Linked DNA regions of Homo sapiens. The protein of the gene in region 3 interacts with the protein of the main gene of each other region in a pairwise test. Each region holds a gene or a part of one and is shown on either strand. Other genes may lie near its edges.

Region 1 (7,026 bases), on a different chromosome or scaffold from region 3:
CATATGATCTGATAAGCTCTTGGTTGGCAGGAACCACATAGCAGTAATGATGTGATTGGTGAAAATCTGGGCACAGTCAAAGGCAAGTGGACCCTGGCAGTCTTGCTCCAAAGTACACTCAAAAAAACTCACATACGGCCAGGTGCGGTGGCTCACACCTGTAATCCCAGCACTTTGGGAGGCCGAGGTGGGCGGATCACCTGAGGTCGGGAATTTGAGACCAGCCTGACAAATATGGAGAAACCCTGTCCCCACTAAAAACACAAAATTAGCCGGGTGTGGAGGCGCGTGCCTGTAATCCCAGTTACTCGGGAGGCTGAGGCAGGAGAACTGCTTGAACCCGGGAAGCGGAGGTTGAGGTGAGCCGAGATCCCGCCATTGTACTCCAGCCTGGGCAACAAAAGCGAAACTCCGTCTCCAAAAAAAAAAAACATAGCATACTTGGCAGGGAATACCTCATTGTCACAAGTGATACCAAGGAATTGATACCTAATGCCCTAAAGTGGAAGCTCAAGATAAAGGAAAATAATTACTTCAATTCCCTGGCATGTCCACCATTCACATCCCACTGAAGCTCACCGGCCATCCAGGAAAGGTCCCATTCTCCCATTTCTTCTCAAACTCAGCCTGAATCTTCCCAAAAAGTTCATTCTGATCTTGGAGAGGCTTCACTCTATCTGTGTAATCCTGAAGGTACTCAAGCAGCATCTCTAGGTATCTACAGAGGAACACACAATGCAGACAAAGCAAAAAGGGTTTCTATTTTTGGTATCTTGTTATTCCCTGCAGAATATAAAGTACTTATAATTCTAGTAATGCTATCTTTTTAATACTCTTTTTTTTTTTTTTTTTTTTTTTTTGAGGCAGAGTTTCGCTCCTCTTACCCAGGCTGGAGTGCAATGGCGGGATCTTGGCTCACCACAACCTCCGCCTCCCGGGTTAAAGCGATTCTCCTGTCTCAGCCTCCCGAATAGCTGGGATTACAGGCATGCGCCACCATGCCCGGCTAATTTTGTATTTTTAGCAGAGACGGTGTTTCTCCACGTTGGTCAGGCTGGTCGCGAACTCCTGACCTCAGGTGATCCGTCTGCCTCGGCCTCCCAAAGTGCTGGGATTACAGGTGTGAGCCACCGCGCCCGGCCAATACTCATTTTTAAATGAACTTACAATGGACTTTTTTCCCAACATGTCATTTTGATTCTGACCTTTCCCGCCTCCTTTTATTCTCATAAAATGATGCTAAATACTAAGGTCTTAATTACTTTGCACATAAAAGATTTCAGTAAAAAGAAAATGAGAAAAAGAGGGGAAGGGTATAAAATCACTAATCAGGAGAGTAATTAACAAAAACATAAATTTTTCACTTATACATCACACCTAAGCATCTCACTTCAGTCACTATCTGAGAAAGTCTAATTTTTTTTCCCATTAAACTCCAAAAACACAGAAATCCCAGAGTGGGAGAGTTCCTTCTATAATGAGACAAAATTAAGAACACTATGGGCATAAGATGGAAGATGTGCCCACAGACACACCTTTGTCCACGTCCAGACTATCGCAAAGGTTTTAAAACCACATCATTCATAACCCCATCCTCCAATAAACCTGGAAGTATGCCTTCATGTATGCCTTCCAGGCAACAAATTCAGAACTTCACCCTCAAAAACTTCACATTATCTTCTAATCAAATCCAGGAGAGGCCTAGAAACTATTAATGCCTACCTCTTATACTCTGCATTCTTCCTTTCTTTAGGAATGTCAAATAATTGGTCAAAGATGGACAGGTATGTGATATAATCCAGCTTCTGAAAAGAGGAAAGAAATGACAAGAAATTCAGTTAGGTATTTATACTGTAACAAGTTACAATATAATCTCCAATAAGTGAGATCAAAATTGAGTGTTTTCTAAAGAAGTAACAAGGGCTGGCTAATTTTGGTTTTTTTTGCTTGCCTATCATTCAATCCTACTACAACTGGAGTGTTAATTTCACTGGACTGAAGGAAAATATCAGACATAATAACTTTACAAAATAAAGATCAAGTTAATGAACATTAAACTAAAAGAAACGTTTGTCGATTATTACCTCATGCTAGGGTCTTGGTTAAAGACTCTGACACCCTAAAACAAGGTGCTCAAAGGTGCCATTTGTTCACGCAAGTAACTACTTATTAAGCATCTTTGTACCAAGTACGGGGTACAGAAAACAACAAAACAGACAAGGGATCTGACTTGCCTGCATGGAACTTGAAGTTTGGTCACTACAACTCTGGGACATTTCTTCACAATTCCATGAGGAATCTAATCATGGATTTCCTTGTGATCCTTTTGAGATTGTCATATTAAACCTCATCTCTTGTGATAAGCTATTTTTTTTTTTTTTGAGACGGAGTTTGGCTCTTGTTGCCCAGGCTGGAGTGCAATGGCATGATCTCGGCTCACCACAACCTCCACCTCATGGGTTCAAGCGATTCTCCTGCCTCAGCCTCCTGAGTAATTGGGATTACAGGCATGAGCCACCATGCCCGGCTAATTTTTTCTATTTTTAGTAGAGACAGGGTTTCTGCATGTTGGTCAGGCAGGTCTTGAACACCTGACCTCAGGTGATCCACCTGCCTTGGCCTCCCAAAGTGCTGGGGTTACAGGCGTGAGCCACCGCGCCCGGCCTGTGATAAGCTATTTTTAAACATCTTTAAGAAAAGACATTAAATACCTTTTTGCTGACTGAAAGATCATGTTGTTTTATTTTCCATGTACCTAGTATTGTTTGTGTCTAAAACAGGAACACCTAGAAGAACACATAAATCTGGGTGGGCACAGTGGCTCATGCCTGTAATCCCAAGGCTTTGAGAAGCTGAGGCAGGAGGATTGATTGAGTCCAGGAGTCCAAGACTAGCCTGGACAATACAGTGAAACCCTATTTCTACAAAAAAAAATTTTTTTTTTTGAGTTTGAGTTTTGCTCTTGTTGCCCAGGCTGGAGTGCAATGAATGACACAATCTCGGCTTACCGCGACCTCCGCCTCCTGGGTTCAAGCGATTCTCCTGCCTCAGCCTCCTGAGTAGCTAGGATTACAGGCATGCGCCACCATGCCCAGCTAATTTTGTATTTTTAGTAGAGACGGGGTTTCTCCATGTTGGTCAGGCTGGTCTTGAACTCCTGACCCCAGGTGATCTGCCCACCTTGGCCTCCCAAAGTGCTAGGATTACAGGCGTGAGCAACTGTGTCCAGCCAGGAACATGGTATTTATTTAAAAAAAAAAAAAAAAAAAAAAGAATTTAAAGAAATCTTATGTAAGGCTGGATGCAGTGGCTTCCGTCTATAATCCCAACACTTTGTGAGGCCAAGACAGACGGATTGCTTGAGCTCAGGAGTTTAAGACCAGCCTTGGCAACATGGCAAAACCCCATCTCTACACAAAATACAAAAAATTAGCTGGGCATGGTGGCACACGCCTGTAGTCCCAAGTACTTGGTGGGGCTGAGGCGGGATCCATCACTTGAGTCCAAGAGGTCTAGGCTACAGTGAGCCAAGATCGCGCCACTGCACTCCAGCCTGGGTGACAAAGTGAGACCCTGTCTCAAAAAAAAAAAAAAAAAAAAAAGATTTATTTTGGCAAAGGTAAAATATGCTTGCTGTATTGATAATGGACTGGGTACAATGGCTCATGCCTGTATCCCAACACTGTGGGAGGCCGAGACAGGAGGATCATTTGAGGTCAGGAGTTTGTGACCAGCCTGGGCAACACTGCAAGACCCCATCTTTACAAAAAAAGACAAAAATTAGCCAAGTGTGGTGGTGGTATGCACCTGTAGCCTCAAATACTCAGAAGGCTAAGGCAGGAGATCACTTGAGCCCAGAAGTCGAGGTTGCAGTGAGCAAAGATCATACCACTGCACTCCAGACTGGGCAACATGGTAAGACCTCATCTCAAAATAAAAAAAAAAGTATTAATAAATAAATATGCTTCTTGTTTTCACTGTAGAAAACTTTCATTTTGAATAGTATTTCATTCCAAGAGAGCATATCACCTCTTTAATATTTACATAAGAGTTTTAAAACACAAGGAAGACACTTTACAATGGCTTCATGTCTGCTAGTTCCAGCCTACTGTCCTGACTCACTTCGAGAATCAGAACCTCTCTGCCCTTTCCCAGGCCTTACCTCAGATGCCTTCAGGTTAATGTACTTGAGGTAACAGTCATGGAGATCGAGATAACGACCATATCCCTCTTCATCTGTGAACTCCACCAAGTCTGAGGGAATCAGATACATCAATGATTCAGTTTCTACAGACCACTCTCTTGGACTTACCTTTTCAAATGGACTGTGTGTTCCTAGTTTCCTGAGGCAGCACTTCACCCAAATGTCTTCCCTTTGCTCACAATATAACCTCCAATAAGTTAAGTGAGATCAAAAGTGAGTTTTCTCTTACAAGGTAACAAGGACTGACTCATTTTAGTATTGTGAACTAAAGTGAACAATCCTTGGCTTTCCAAGCCAGTAAATTTGAGGTAGGAGAGAACAAAATGAACATTTTGCCCAAGACCAACTTAGGATGTCACTCTAGCCCAGAAACCAGCAAAGACAAAACCAGCAAGAAATCCTGGCTATAAATATCTCTGAGGCCATGGCTGCAAATCTGAGCTGTCATTAACCTGTATTTTTGCTGGTGCTGAATGAAATTTTCACCCCTACTTACTTTGTGCCTCTTCACTTGGATTCTCTCGAGCCTTCAGGAGTTCCTCAAATTCCACTGACATTGGCACACAGATCTGAGGGGAAAAGTAAAAGCTCAGGTGGATTTTTCTTTTTGCTTTTGAGATGGATTCTCACTCTGTGGCCCAGGCTGGAGTGCACTGGCACAATCTTGGCTCACTGCAACCTCTACCTCCCGGGTTCAAGCGATTGTCCTGCCTCGGCCACCCGAGTAGCTGGGATTATAGGCACACACCACCACGCTTGGCTAATTCTTGTATTTTTAGTAGAGACAGGGTTTTGCCATGTTGCCCAGGCTGGTCTCAAACTCCTAAGCTCAAGTGATCTGCCCACCTTGGCCTCCCAAAGTGCTGGGATTACAGGCATGAGCCACTGTGCCTGACCGCAGGCGGATTTTTCAATGTAAAAGTTGCAAGATCACAGAAATGAAATACACAGAAAGTTGGACTTCTGATGATTTATTTGGCCTTGATTTTTCACTAGGAAATCTACTACTGTTCTCCAATTACCTTGTTTTTCCCCGCTTTTTTGTACTGTTTGAGTAAAACCCACTAAAGTAACACATGCTCACAAAAACTCAAAAGTCCACCTTTATTAATTCTCCTGAGAACAGGTGACCACTGTTAACAGAGCTTTTGCTATGCCAGTGGTTCCCAAACTTTGCTGCACATTAGAATCACCTGGGGGAGTTTTTTTTTTAAATCCTGATGCACCTGATACCAATTAAATCAAAGGAGGGCAGGTATCAGTACTTTTTAAAGATCCCCAGGTGGCTCAAATATGCACAAAGTTTGGAAAACAGTGCTCTATGTATTTAAATATATGTATTTGTACAAGTACATTCATGCCTGCATAGGTTTTTGTTTTTGTTTTTTTAACATAAAAGACTTGCGTCTGACATTTAGTATATCTTGGGCATCCTTCTAATCAGTTATTTAAGCATTTATTCCTCATTACCTTTTGACCATGGCTGGAATAAGGTTAACACATCAGAATGGTATTCATTTATTCTCCCTTGGTTAGCAGAAGACCTCATTCTCTATCCTCCAAGGGGGCTATGTGTGTGAGGGTCCCTTCATTTACCTCCGCGCTATGTATTGCAATAAACAGCCTCTATTTTTTGCTGTTTTTAGTCTCTTCCTTTTTCCCTGTGCTCCTTCAAATAAGTATGCTTCTCTGTCTTCCCCAATACCCTCCTGTTTCTCCCCTTCTTTTTCCTACCAGACTTTTTTTTTTTTTTTTTTTGACGGAGTCTTGCTCTGTTGCCCAGGCTGGAGTGCAGTGGCGTGATCTCAGCTCACTGCAACCTCCATGTCCTGGGTTCAAGCGATTCTCCTGTCTCAGCCTCATGAGAAGCTGGGATCACAGGCGTGCACCACCATGCCCGGCTAATTTTTGTGTTTTTAGTAGAGAGAGGTTTCACCATTTTGGCCAGGCTGGTCTCCAACTCCTGACCTCAGATGATCGACCCGCCTCGGCCTCCCAAAGTGCTGGGATTACAGGCGTGAGTCACTGCACCTGGCTACCAGCCTTTCAAATGCATGTTCCATACTCCATACTTCTACTTCCCCATTACCCATCTTTACCTTGTGACCAGATTTCCATTCATACTACTTTAATGAAGCAGCAATCCTGGCAGATATAAATCAATAACAGTTGACACCATGACTGCCTTTCTGAAACTCTCTTTTGCTTAACTTCAGTAAGGCAACACCACCTGGAGTGGTCATGTGACCTTTCTGATGGAAGCCTTCCCAGGCCCTTTTTCTCTTTACCTTATTATAAGTGAGCTCCAGGGCATATGAGGGCCGGGCGCGGTGGCTCATGCCTGTAATCCCAGCACTTTGGGAGGCCGAGGTGGGCGGATCACAAGGTCAGGAGATAGAGACTATCCTGGCTAACATGGTGAAACCCTGTCTCAACTAAAAAATACATAAAATTAGCCAGGCGTGGTGGCAGGCACCTGTAGTCCCAGCTACTCAGGAGGCTGAGGAAGGAGAATGGCATGAACTCGGGAGGTGGAGCTTGCAGTGAGCCGAGATCATGCCACTGCACTCCAGCCTGGGCAACAGAGCGAGACTCCATCTCAAAAAAAAAAAAAAAAAAAAAGACAGAGTTAGGAACACAATTTATTGGGGAGAGTAATTTCTGTGAAAGATAAAAAGGAAGAGAAAGTAGGATTAGGACAGGATAGCCTAGACCACAATGCAGATTGGACAAAATCTTGACCAACCCAACGGGGAGCCATGGAGCAAAGATTATTCATCAGAGGAGTCTCAGAGTGGACCAAATTGCTGGGCCCTAGTACC
Region 2 (7,026 bases), on a different chromosome or scaffold from region 3:
TGAACAGAACCTTTGTGCACATCAACTTCAATCTTTACAATCACTATGCTAAGGGTCAATTATTACCCTCAGTTTGCAGATCAGGAAAATATCACAGATGTTAAGTAACAGAGCTAGCCAACAGGTACAGAATCCAGGTTTGACCCTCTCTCTGGCCACAAAGCCCACACCCTTTTACCTACGCTATAGCAGGGGGCTGGGGAAGAATATCTGGGCTCTGACCTTTCTGTTCACTGTAGCCTGGGGGATGAAAACACAGGCTGAGGCGGCCGTCCACTGCCAGCCGCAAGAGACTGTTGGCTGCTCTGTACACATCATTCCGAGCCGCCTTGGCTGTCTTGTAACCACGTTTCTCTGCCCAGGCTGGAGGAAGAAAAGAATAATGGAAAGGGAAAGCATTAACCAGGTACCAGTTATACTCCCACTCCCATAACACAGTCCTTCCAGTTTTCCCCAAAACATTCCAGGCCAGAGATCTTACTGGCTATGCAACAAAAATCTAGGGGTGAGTGGACAGCAGCTTCATCAATGGCAGAATCTCTGAGGAGAGGAAAGGAGACAGGGAAGGGTAAAAGGCGAGGCAGGTAAGGAAGAGCAGCTGAAACCAGGTGGGGCGAAGCCAGGCACATGGAACTCACCTTCACAGATGTCCCAGGCACACCAGGGGTGTTCCGCTGAGGGGTCCTCAGCCTCTGGGTGGCGCAGGTGGAGCAGGGCCTGCACGGGAATTCGGGAGGCCAGGTAGCCCACAGCAGTGTAGGGCTCCTGGATCTGGGCGATAGGGTAGATCCCTGCCAGAACCTGAGGGAAATGAGCACTCAGTACTTTCCTCAATGTCCCACCTTCTCTCTTTCCCTTACCCACCCTCCCCGTCATACCTGCAACTGCCTAGGCAGAAGAGATGGGAAGATGAGGCCTGGGCAGTCACAGAGCTTCACAGAGGGGGTAAGAAAGTAGGTCTGAAAGTATCGGGTATGGCCCGGGGTTCTGGAGACACTCACGACTTTCCGCCCCACCAGCCCATTGATCAGCGAGGACTTTCCCACATTAGGGAAACCTGAGGAAGGCAAGGAAAATTAACGTTTAACAGGTTTCTACTCTGTGATGGGACTTGGTGCTATACCTATAGGTAAAAGGGGAACTAAGGCTCAGAAATTAAGGAAATGGTATTGCAGAATACAAATCACGCTCTGGGCTGCCAGGGTTAAATCCTGGCCCTTCCACTTACCAGCTTTGTGATGTCAGGGCAACTAACTTTCTGAGCCTCTGTTTCTTCATTTTACAGTGTGGACACCTCCCTACCTCAGGGTGGTCAGGATTAAATGAGATAACCAATACAACTTGTGTGGGTCAGTGCCTGCAGTACAGTAAGTACCCAGTACCAGTGATCCACATCTCATAATTACTATGACTTGGCCTGGCACAGTGGCTCACGCTTGTAATCCCAGCGTGATTACTTTGGGAGGCCAAGGCGGGTGGATCACCTGAGGTCAGGACTTCAAGACCAGCCTGGCCAACATGGTGAAACCCCATCTCTACTAAAAATACAAAAATTAGCTGGGCGTGGTGGTGGGCGCCTGTAATTGCAGCTACTTGGGAGGCTGAGGCAGGAGAACCACTTGAACCCAGGAGGCGGAGGTTGCAGTGAGCTGAGATTGCACCATTGCACTCCAGCCTGGGCAATAAGAGGGAAACTCCATCTCAAAAAATAATAATAATAATTACGATGACTTGTCCAAGGAGAAAACTGGAAGCCTTGGGGCTCACTGCCACTCTGCTCACTCACCACCACCAGTTTTTGTGTTTCTGGCTGACTTCAGTGCCTTCATCTCCCTTCCACAGAGCATCTCCTTTACCCCACCTCAGCTGCCCACTCCCATGGTAATACCTGCATCTTGTCACTTCACAGCTCCAAAGCCTCAATTCCAAGCACCCCTCTCTGCCCTGACAACTCATCTTTCCAGCTCACTTACTCTGGTTACTCCATGCCAGTAAGTCTTTGACCCCTGACCTTAACACAGTAACACTATGCAATACCCAACTCGTGTCCTCAATTTCCTTCTTACTTGACTCAGATTTCATGATCCAGCTCCTCAGCCAGGCCCGTTCACAGACCTGGAACTCCCTGGTCCCACTTCTCCCCTCTATCTTACTCACCTGGCAAAATCCCAACCCTGTAAAATCCAGCTCTGCCCATTCAGCACTGCTCCTGGGCAGCTGACTGTGGCTAAGAAAAGATGTACCACTGTGCTCACTCTTTACAACACATGCAAGTATCTAGGAGGAAGGGAGGGAAGGAGGGAGAAAAAAGTTCTCCTTTGACGACCACCACCAGACCTAGTTCTCTGTCCGCTTTGCAGGAAAACTCCTTAAAAGACTTACCTACTTTTTTCACCATTTCTTCCTGCTATCTTCTTTGTAACTGTAAACTACAACATACAAAAAAATGCACAGAACATACATGTGCAGCCTGATGAACCCCATACCACCCAATGTGTGACAACATGTTCCATCTGTCCTTGTTTTTTTTGTTTTTGTTTTTGAGACAGAGTCTCACTCCCTCACCCGGGCTGGAGTGCAGTGGTGCGATGTTGGCTCACTACAACCTCATCCTCCCAGGTTCAAGCGATTCTCGTGCCTCAACCTCCTGAGTAGCTGAGACCACAGGCGTGCGGCTCCACACCTGGCTAACTTTTTGTATTTTTAGTAGAGATAGGGTTTTGCCATGTTGGCCAGGCTGGTCTCAAACTCCTGACCTCAAGTAATGCGCCTGCCTCAGCCTCCCAAAGTGCTAGGATTACAGGGATGAGCCACCATACCGGCCGCCACTCATCCTTCTTGATCATAATCCTCTCCCTCTATACATGCAAGCTTTATCCTTTTAAGGAAATCAACTCCTTACATTTCTCTTTAGTTTATGACCTGTGTATCTCTCAACAATGCAGCTTAATTTTGCAGCTTTCAAACTTGATAGAACTGAAATTGTGCAGTATGGATGCTATTGGGTCAGACTCTTTTCACACAATGTTATGTGAAGTTGTTGCACCTTCTCTCATGGGCCTACTCCAGTTTGGCTTTCTCCACCCCACTGAAACCACGGATCTTCACATTGCCAAGCCTGCTGAGCAGCTCTCTGTTCTCTCATTTGGCCTGTCAGCAACAGTTGACACAGCTGATTCCTCCTTTCCTCTTCAAACACCTTCTTCATTTGACTTCTGGGACGCTCCCTTGGTTTTCCTCCTTCTCACTGTCCTTTGCCCAACTAAATGCTGGCTTGTCCTAAGGCTCAGTCCTTGACCTCCTCTTCTCCAACTATTTCCTTTCTCTCCTACATCTCATCCAATTCCATGGCTTTTTTTTTTTTTTTTTTGACGAAGTCTTGCTCTGTCACCCAGGCTGGAGTGCAGTGGTATGATCTTGGCTCACCGTAACCTCTGCCTCCAGGATTCAAGCAATTCTCCTGCCTCACCCTCCTGAGTATCTGGGACTACAGGCACGCACCACCACACACGGCTAATTTTCTGTATTTTTTGGTAGAGACAGGGTTTCACCATGTTGGCCAGGCTGGTCTCAAACTCCTGGCCTCAAGTGATCCACCTGCCTCAGCCTCCCAAAGGGCTGGGATTATAGGCATGAGCCACTGTGCCCAGCCTAATCCTGTGGCTTTAAATACCACTTATATCCATCAATGGTTCCCCAAATTTAAATCTTTCCCAAATTCAAATTTCCGTCCTCTTCTCTCCCCTAAGCTGCTGACTACTTACCCACTGCCTATTCAACATCTCCACTAGGGATATTTAAAAAGAATCTGAAATTTCATTTCTGATTCCCCTCTCCTCCCCAAAGCCTTCAAATCTGCTTCTCCCCCAGTCTTCCCATCTCAGTATTTCCAGTTGCTCAAGACAAAAACCTGGAAGTCCTTCTTTATCCTCACTTTCCTTCACGTGCCAACTGCAAGCCATCAGCGATCTCATTTTCTCTACCTTCAAAATATATCATGCTTCCGGCCCTGTCTCACCACCTCCAGCTCCAGCATCCTACTCTAAGCAACTCTTATTTCTCTCCTAGATTACTGAAATAGCCTCAACTGCTCTCTCTGCTCCCTTTCTTGCCCACCCCCCATCATTTATTCTCTACTCAGGAGGTAAACTTATAAGAAACAAAATCAGATCCTATCATTCCCCTGTTCAAAACCTACCCTTGGCTTCTCATGAGACTTGGAATAAAATCCAAAATGGCTGTCACAGCCTCAGGGCTCTACATGATGTGGGCCCTGGTGATCTTGCTGACCTCATCCCCAGTACTTTATCCTGGCTCCCATACTCCAATCCCCTGGGCACTCTTGCTGGTCCTAGAATCTCCAAGCCCGTTCCCTCCTCAAGACCCTTTCCCCACAGTTCTGAATGGCTCACTTCATCTCATCATCCAGTTCTCTCCTCAGGGAGGTTTTCCCTGAGCACCTCTCCTCTCAGTCACTCTCTATCCCCTTTCATTGCTTTATTGCCTTCACTGCCCCTACATGATTTCGGATCACAAAATCTATTTACTCACAAGAAAATAAGCTCCATGAATCTACAGACCTTTTTGCCATTTCCACAGCAGTATGTCCCATCCCTAGAATATCTGGCACCTGGTTAAGTGTTCAGTACATATTTGTTGAATGGGTAAATGAATGAGAGCTGGAGGGAAATCCAAACTCAGGGGTGCCTGTGCCACAGCAAACACTCTCCCTCTCACACCACCTGGAATAGAGATCAGCTAGAGCAGAGGCTGCTAAGAGAGGGAACAGAGGCTCCTTGTGACAGGGAGACTAGGATCAGAAGTCAGGGAAGGGACAGCCGGGTGAAATGACTGGAAAGAGGAGCAATCACTCAGCAGTAAGGCAGGTTCTTCCAAAGACAAAAAGGACACAGAGATAAGTCAGGGCACTTCCAAGGAACCCAACTACCTACTCCACACTCCCAAATTTATTCTGGGTTGGGCCCTTTTTGGTTCCAATATCACCTCAGATACCATAACTTGTCCAAGGTCTCTTCTTACCTCTCCCACCCTAAATGAAGACGGGCCCTGGGTCCTAATCATACATTCCTTTTTCCTCCACTGTGAGCTGAGACAAAGCCCTTAAGAGGAGATTCTCCTTGGCAACAAACTTAAAGGGTTAAAACCTAGAAGAATACTAATTCTTGCTGAGCTCCTACTATGATTTGATAATCACTGTACTACAGACTAATTACTACAATTCAAATGGTTTATATAAACCACTTAAAACAGTGCCTGTTACATAGTAAGCACCATATAAATACTGAGTTTTAACAATAATAATTGTTATTATTGTTATCACTATTTGTCAGGCATTCTTACACTCTCTTAACACTATTCCCATCATTCCTCACATCCATTCTTTTTTTTTAAAGACAGGGTCTCTATCAGCCAGGCTGGAGTGCAGTGGCACAATCATAGCTCACTGCAGCCTTGAACTCTTGGGCTCAAGTGATCCTCCTGCCTCAGCCTCTGAAGTAGCAGAGACTACAGGCACATACCACCACACTTGGCTAGTTTTCTTTATCTTTTGTAAAGATGGGGTTTCACTATGTTGCCCAGACTAGTCTTGAGCTCCTGGTCTCAAGCAATCCTCCCACCTCAGCCTCCCAAAGCGCTGGGACTATATAGGCATGAGCCCTCACACATGGCCGTCATCCATTCTTTTACTCAGGTATCAATGTCCTTATTTTTAAAATCAAAGTAACTAAGACTCAGAGTAGCAAAATCACTTACTCAAGACCTCACAGCTGAGAAGAGGTGGAATTTAACTCAGGCTGTCATGATCCTTCCACTGCAGCAGACGCCTCTTCTGCCTTGCCCACCGCCACTGGCAGAGATCACCCCTCAGACACCCTGGGGCCTAATGAGACCTGATCGCCCTCTCTCTTCTCCGAATATGAAAACTCTGTACCTCCTTGGAGGCCACCACGCACAAGCTGCCACTTCCTTACCCACACAGCCGATGGTCACCACCCCATCCTTGTAGCGCTCTTGGGTTGGGCCAGTTGGCTCCATTGCTGAATCAGTCTGCTGCTCCACCAGGACTGCTGGGCCATCCTCCTCTTCCTCCTCCTCCCCAGAGCCATTACCCCAGGTGGCCCCAGCCACATCCCGAGCAATCTTCTCCCGCCAGCTGCTCAAGTCCACTGCTCAAAGAAGGAGAAGATTAAAGAGGTTCTCCCCAGGGCTGCTGTGCATGATGGCACATACTGTGCCCTGCACAGATTATGTAACTGGCACCCTCTGGAGTTGTACAGTGCCAACCTAAATAAGAGCAGGTCAGAGAATCTCCCAAAAGTCATTTGACCCTACCCTCCCTGGAATCACGCACGTTTCTCTGAGCTTCTGAAAAGTACTGGGAAGGCTAAAGGCAGCAAGCCACTGAGGCTCCTGACTACCTGCTGCCTCTCGTCCCACCAAGTCAGTCTGCTCCTTATTCTGTCCCTTCCCCTGGCCTCTTGCACATATCCACCATAGAGGGGTTGGCTTCAGGAAAGGTGAGCAAAATGATTCTGCATCTTTGGTCTCCCCCATGTCCTCCTACAGCCCTCCTCTAAGGGCCACATACCTTTCCCCACAGTGATGGCTTCACAGGCTCTCAGCAACTGCTCTGGCCCCAGGGCCCGAGTCCATCCTCTCCCCCGCCTCCGACTCTTCTTCAAGACTGAGATCAGAGGGCACAAAAGGATGGGCACACGGGCTTAGGCCTCTCATCTCTCCCACCACCCTTAGGCCCAAGACCAGGTGCCCCCTTGTCAATAAGCCTCTCTGTTCTCCCCTTTGTCCCCTGCCAACTCACCTCTCCCAAGTTGCCCTCTCTCATTGCCCACTCACCACTACTAGGGTCCTGTGGGGTGCGGGGGTCCCGAGGAAAAGAGGTGAAAAGGACGACGTGGAGCTGGGGATAGTGTTGATGGAAATAATGCTTCCAGGCAACCACAAGAGCTGGCGGGGCCAGATCCACCTTGTTCAAAACCAGCACCA
Region 3 (7,026 bases):
ACCCTGTCTCAAAAAAGAAAAAGAAAGAAAGAAGCTGTTTGAATTTTGGTGTATTTCTAAAGTTTTTTTTCATCTTTTAGTTTATTTTTTTTCAACAAAAGTGAAATTATAGCGTGTATGTTCTGTTACCTATGCTTTATGCTTAGCATATTCTCTGAGACTCCTGTATCAGTGTTCATTTTTAAACCTATTTTTATTTAATGTTTTGGACTATATGATAAAAGATGTCACTTACATCTTATCTTGCTTCCACATCCCTGCCAGACTTCATAGTTGATCATGTCACCCGTTTGAAAACTTTCAATGGCTCCCCACAATAAAGACAAAATTCCTTAGCAGGACCTACAAGACCTAATTCATTCATCTTTGCACTCTAGCAGCTGGGATGGTGAATAAATCCTTAAAAAATATTTACTGAAATGATGTGACTAAGTCTACTGACATTTTCCTTATAATTTTCACTTTAATGAGCTGTCTCTGACAGTAGGAAAATCACTGTCATAGAAGCTAAAATTACTGAAACCAACACTGGGGAAGTCTTCCCCAAGCTGTCCCCCTACTGTCTCCCTGCACGTTCACTTCAGTCCTAACCCCCTCTGCAAACTTCACTTTATTTGAATAAAGCACACACTTTATTCAAGGCTGCTTCTCTAACCACAGTGAGGCCACCAAGACCGAGACACTAGAGGAAATATCTCGGAAAGAACTGCTGGGGCCAAGGGTTGTGGTCCAGAGAACATGGGACAAAAGGAAACTGACTGGTGCAGAACTGAACATTTAAGTTTGGCCATGACCTACTCTAGTTACTCAAGTCAGTTAATTCATCATGGAACACATGAGACAAAAGCTTAAATACATCCTCCTGCAAGAGATTAAAAGAAAAGTTCAATGTAAAAGACAAATACAAGCGAAACAAAACAAAATATTAAACTGGATATATGCATGCCATCATGTTTGTTTTGCTTCTACTTTAAGTCTGTGAGTCTCCTCTTTCTGTGGCCCAGCATTCTGTGCTCAGTAGCACTTTTTCTAGACAGGAATGTAGGTGAGAATCTGTGCAAAGGAATAAGCCCCCTCCTCTTCCACATAGTAAGAGGTTGAAAAGAATGATTAAGCTAGTTTCTTCTTGTCTTCTGTTTTGAATTATCTAGCATGATGGGAACAATTCAAATGTTCACGAACCAGTCAATGGATGAAAAAATTGTGATCCATCCAGTGTTATGGGTTGAATTGTGTCTCCTCAAAATAATACAGTAAAACCCTAATCCTCAGTACCTCAGGATGTGATCTTACTTGGAAATAAGGTACTTCCAAGGGTAATCAGGTTAAAATGAGGTCATTAGGATGGGCCTTAATCCAATGACTGATGTCCTTAAAACAGAGGACCTTTAGACGCAGACACACACACACACAGGGAGAAGATGTCTACTATGGTTTGTCCTCACCAAAACCCATGTTGAAATTGTATTTCCAATGTGGCAGTGTCGGGAGGTGAAGTCTCGTGGGAGGTGTTTGGGTCATGAGGGCATATCCCTCATAAATAAATTAATGCGCTCCCACAGGGGTGAGCTGTCATTGGCAGGAATGGATTAGTTCCCACTACAGTGGGTTGTGAAACAGTCTGACTTCTTTGGTCTCTCTCTTGCCTCCTCTGTCACCATGTGATCTCTACACACACCTGCTGCCCTTCCATTTTCTGCCATGAGTTTAAGCAGCTTGAAGCCCTCACTAGACACAGCTGCCCAATCTTGAACTTTCCAGCCACCAGAATTGTGAGCCAACTAAACCTCTTTTCTTCATGAATTACCCAGCCTCATGTATTCTGTTACACCAATACATAATGGGCCATGTCAAGATTAAGGCAGAGACTGGACTTATGCTGCCACAAACCAAGAAAACACATGGGACCACCAGAAGCTAGGAGAGAAACACAAAACTCATAAGGAACCAACCCTGCAAACATCTTGATTTCAGACTCCTAACCTCCAGAACTGTGAGACAGAATTTCTGTTATTTAAGCTTCCCAGTTTGTTACACCAGCCCTAGGAAACAGACACACTATATAAGACACTTCATTATATACCGTATTATATATTTAGTGTATTTTTCCTATATAGCTTAGAAGACTACTAAGCCTGCTACTTAGTAGTAGACTACTACTTCGACTACTAAGTCTACTACTATGTAATAAAAAGGAACCAAAATCACTGACATGTTTAACAACATGCTAAGTGACGGGAATCAGACAAAGGTCAGGCACGGTGGCTCATACCTATAATCCCAACACTTTGGGAGGCTAAGATGGATCACTTGAGCCCAGGAGTTCAAGATCAGCCTGGGCAACAAAGCAAGACCCCCACCTCCACAATTTTTTTAAAATGAGCCAGACGTGGTGGCATGTGCCTATAGTCCCAGCTACTTGGGAGGCTGAGGATGGGAGGATCACTTGAGCCCTGGAGTTCAAGGTTGCAGTGAACCATGATCACACTACTGCACTCCAGCCTGAGTGACAAAGTAAGACCACTTAAAAAAAAAAAAAAGAAGGGCCGGGCATGGTGGCTCACACCTAAAATCCCAGCACTTTGGGAGGCCGAGGCGGGCGGATCACCTGAGGTTGGGAGTTCGAGACCAGCCTGACCAACATGGAGAAACCCCATCTCTACTAAAAATACAAAATGAGCCGGGCATGGTGGCGCATGCCTGTAATACCAGCTACTCGGGAGGCTGAGGCAGGAGAATCACTTAAACCTGAGAGGCGGAGGTTGCGGTGAACCGAGATCACACCATTGTACTCCAGCCTGGGCAACAAGAGCAAAACTCCAAAAAAAAAAAAAAAAAAAAAGAATTCAGACACAAAAGGCTACATTTGTGTTTCATTTACATGTTTGGAAAAAAGCAAACTATAGGGACAGAAATCAGATCAGTGGTTGCCAAGGGCTAGGGATAGGAGAAAAATATTGATTATAGGCCAGGCACAGTGGCTCACACCTATAACCCCAGCACTTTGGGAGGCCGAGGAGGGCGGATTGATCATGAGGTCAGGAGATCAAGACCATCCTGGCTAACATGGTGAAACCCCATCTCTACTAAAAATACAAAAACAAAATTAGCCAGGTGTGGTGGCAGGTGCCTGTAGTCCCAGCTACTTGGGAGGTTGAGGCGAGAGAATGGTGTGAACCCAGCAGGCGGAGCCTGCAGTGAGCTGAGATCACGTCACTGCACTCCAGCCTGGGCAACAGAATAAGACTCCGTCTCAAAAAAAAAAAAAAAGACTGATTATAAAGGGATATGAGGGAACTTTCTTGGATGATGGAAATATTCTCTATCTTGGTAATATGCTGGCTACACATTTGTCAAAATTTGTTGAACTATCTGCCTAAAGAGTAAATTTTACTGTATGTAAATGGTATCTCAATAAACACGTCTTAGAATGTCAAAGTAGGAGAAAATGCTAGCTGTAATAAAAGATAACATAAACAAAGTCTAAAAACAAGGAGAGAATATTTGTAAACAGAATATGAAGTGGAAAAAGGTCAAGAACCCCAAAATAAAACTGCAGATTGTAAATCATTCATGGAAGCGGAAATGCAGGCAGTCAATAAACAAATGAAAACACAACCACCTTACAATCAGGAATCCAAATATAACTAAGTGAAAGCACGTTCACCCATCAGACTGACAAACATGAAACAGACACAAAGAATAACATTCAGAGCTGACTATAATGTGGTAAACTGACTCTCATAACACTCCTGGAAGGAATGAAAAATACTACACACTCTTAGGGGAAGAAAAATTTCAAGTCATTAAAAACCCTTTTACCTAGCAATCCCACTTGGGGAATCTATGGCTGGGCACAGTGGCTCGAGTCTGTAATCCCAGCACTTCGGGAGGCTTGAGGCGGGAGGACAGCTTGAGCCCAGGAGTTCAAGAACAGCCAGGGCAAGATGGTGAAATCCCATCTCTACAAAAAGACAATAAAATTAGCCAGGCATGATGACAGGTGCCTATAGTTCCAGCCACTCAGGAAGCTGAGGTGGGAAGATCACTTGAGCCCAGGGGATTGAGGCTGCAGGAAGCCATGATCACACCACTTCCCTCCAGTGACAGAGAGAGATTCTGTCTCAAATAAATAAAGACACGGTCTCACTCTGTCACCCAGGCTGGAGGGCAGTGGCACGATTATACGTCCTGGTATTACAGGCATGAGTCACCCCACCCAACAGAAAAGTGACACATTTAGGATGAATTTCAATTCATAAACATAGTATGCAAATCCTTTTTTTTTTTTTTTTTCTGAGATGGAGTCTCTCGCTCTGTCGCCCAGGCTGCAGGCTGGAGTGCAGTGGCATGATCTCAGCTTACTGCAACCTCTGTCTCAGGTTCAAGTGATTCTCCTGCCTCAGCCTCCCAAGTAGCTGGGATTACAGGTGTGTGCCACCACTCCTGGTTAATTTTTCTGTATTTTTAGTAGGGACAGGGTTTCACCATGTTGCCCAGGCGGGTCTCAAACTCCTGACCTCAAATGATCCACCTGCCTCAGCCTCCCAAAGTGCTAGGATTATAGGCATGAGCCACCATGCCCAGCCTTTTGAGACTCCATTTTTAATATCTTTCAATGTTTTAACATTTTCCCTAGGTATCTATTCCAACCATCAACTCCTGTATGACAAATAATCCCCAAATTTAGTGGCTTAAGACATCATCATCTACTTTGCATGTGAATCTGCAGTTAAAGGAGGGTGGCACATGGATGGTTCGTCTCTGCTCCACTCTCTGTCAAGTGGGGCAAATCACAGGCAGCCAGGTGCTAGAATCCCTTGAGAAATCCCAAGCCACATGAAGAGGGTGCATGAAGTGTTCTGTTCAACGGCCTTACCTACAATCTCAGTCTACACACCAGCATCAACCAATAGACATGGGAATGCACACATTTTCATTCCCAATAGGTTTTTATTTTTGCCTCCTCTCTTTTGTTTTCATTTTGTCTCTACACTTTGATATTATATACTGATAGATATATGGATTAAAAAAATCATTTCTGGCCAGGTGCAGTGGCTCACGCCCATAATTCCAGCCCTTTGGGAGGCCAAGGTGGGCGGATCATGAGGTCAGGAGATCGCGACCATCCTGGCTAACATGGTGAAACCCCATCTCTACTAAAAATACAAAAGAATTAGCCGGGCGTGGTGACGGGCTCCTGCAGTCCCAGCCACTGGGGAGGCTGAGGCAGGAGAATGGCATGAACCCGGGAGGCGGAGCTTGCAGTGAGCCGAGATCGCACCACTGCACTCCAGTCTGGGCAACAGAGAGAGACTCTGTCTCAGAAAAAAAATAAAAATAAAAATAAAAATAATCATTTCTGTACCTGTGCTTCCAATATAATATCCACTAGTCACATGTGGCTGGTTAAATAAAATTAGCCGGGCACAGTGGCTCGTGCCTGTAACCCCAACCCTTTGGGAGGCCAAGACAGCCGGATCACTTGAGGTCAGGAGTTCAAGACCAGCCTGACCAACATGATGAAACCCTGTCTCTACTAAAAATACAAAATTAGCCGGGTGTGGTGGCACATGACTGTAATCCCAGATACTCAGGAGGCTGAGGCAGAAGAATCACTTGAAACTGGGAGGCAGAGGTTGCAAGGTTGCAGTGAGCCAAGATTGCACCACTCTACTCCAGCCTGGGTGACAGAGTGAGAGTCTGTCTCAAAATAAATAAATAAAATTTAAAACTCAGTTCCTCAATCATACTAGCTAACATTTCAAGTGCTCAAAAGCCACATGTGCCTAGTGGCCACTGTATTAAACAGTGCAGAGCAGAACATTTCTATCATCTTGGGAAGTTCTACTGGATGCACTACACCCTTATAAGTCTTTTCTATTTGATAAAATACTAAGGTTGTATTAAAATCTCCTATTATAACAGTGAATCTTTCTCGCAATTCTGTCAGTTTTGTTTTATATATTTTTAGGCTATGTAATTAGGTGCATACAGGTTTAGAAATTTTGTATCTAGCTGGTAAATTGAGTCTTTTACCATTACAAAAGTAGTAGGAGCCTTCTATCTCTAAAGATACTAAATATATTTGTCAACTTTATTTTCATTAGTATTTGCTTGGCATATTTTTTCATGACCTTTTATATTCAACTGTTTCTATATCCTTATCTTTTAGTTGTATCTCTCTCTCTCTCTCTTTTTTTTTTTTTTTTTTTTTTTTTTGAGACGGAGTCTCACTCTGTCACCCAGGCTGGAGTGCAGTGGCGCAATCTTGGCTCACTGCAACCTTTGCCTCCCAGGTTCAAGTGATTTTCCTGCCTCAGCAACCTCCGCCTCCTGGGTTCACGCCAGTCTCCTGCCTCAGCCTCCCAAGAAGCTGGGACTACAGGCACCCACCATCACATCTGGCTAATTTTTTGTATTTCTAGTAGAGACGGAATTTCACTGTGTTAGCCAGGATGGTCTCAATTTCCTGACCTCATGATCCACCCAACTTTGCCTCCCAAAGTGCTGGGATTACAGGCGTGAGCCACCACGCCCAGCCGGTTGTAACTCTTTTAAACCATCTAGTTGGATTTTTCCCCCATCCTGACAATCTATGCCTTTTAACTTGAACATTTCATTCATTTACATTTATTGTAATTGTTCATTAGCTTTGATTTATTTTTACCTTTTTTGTGCTATTTATCCCATCTTTCTTCTCTACTTTCTTGTCTTCTTTTACATTAATTTTTTCTTATTCCATTATCCCCCTTTCTGATCTGTAAGTTATACGACCAATTTCGAGTTGTTTAGCAAGTATCCTAGAAATTATGGGAAACATACATAGAAGGCCCTTTAACAAAGCCCTTTAAACACTTTAGTTCTGATCATCTCTTCCTCATATTTACATCAATGCCATCATGTATTTTAATTGTTTTTAACACAACAAGAAATTGTTACGTTTTATTAAGTCACTATTTGTTTAGATTTAACCATTTCCATGCATCATCACATCTTCTCATATTTTCAGACTTTCTATTTGGG

The links.
Region 1: the proteins of ZNF212 (region 3) and SF3A3 interact in binary tests that used the Homo sapiens proteins (3 or more experiments, as listed by UniProt).
Region 2: the proteins of ZNF212 (region 3) and GNL1 interact in a two-hybrid assay, tested with the Homo sapiens proteins (one study listed by BioGRID and IntAct).

What each region holds. Positions count from the first base shown.
Region 1 is NC_000001.11:37,980,007-37,987,032, forward strand, and holds part of SF3A3 (splicing factor 3A subunit 3), read right to left. Parts: intron 4,774-7,026; coding exon 4,701-4,773; intron 4,255-4,700; coding exon 4,163-4,254; intron 1,806-4,162; coding exon 1,723-1,805; intron 719-1,722; coding exon 580-718; intron 1-579. UniProt on the Homo sapiens protein: Component of the 17S U2 SnRNP complex of the spliceosome, a large ribonucleoprotein complex that removes introns from transcribed pre-mRNAs.
Region 2 is NC_000006.12:30,546,474-30,553,499, forward strand, and holds part of GNL1 (guanine nucleotide-binding protein-like 1), read right to left. Parts: coding exon 6,877-7,026; intron 6,707-6,876; coding exon 6,611-6,706; intron 6,189-6,610; coding exon 5,994-6,188; intron 1,058-5,993; coding exon 879-1,057; intron 802-878; coding exon 639-801; intron 364-638; coding exon 223-363; intron 1-222. UniProt on the Homo sapiens protein: Possible regulatory or functional link with the histocompatibility cluster.
Region 3 is NC_000007.14:149,242,630-149,249,655, reverse strand, and holds part of ZNF212 (zinc finger protein 212), read right to left. Parts: intron 1-7,026.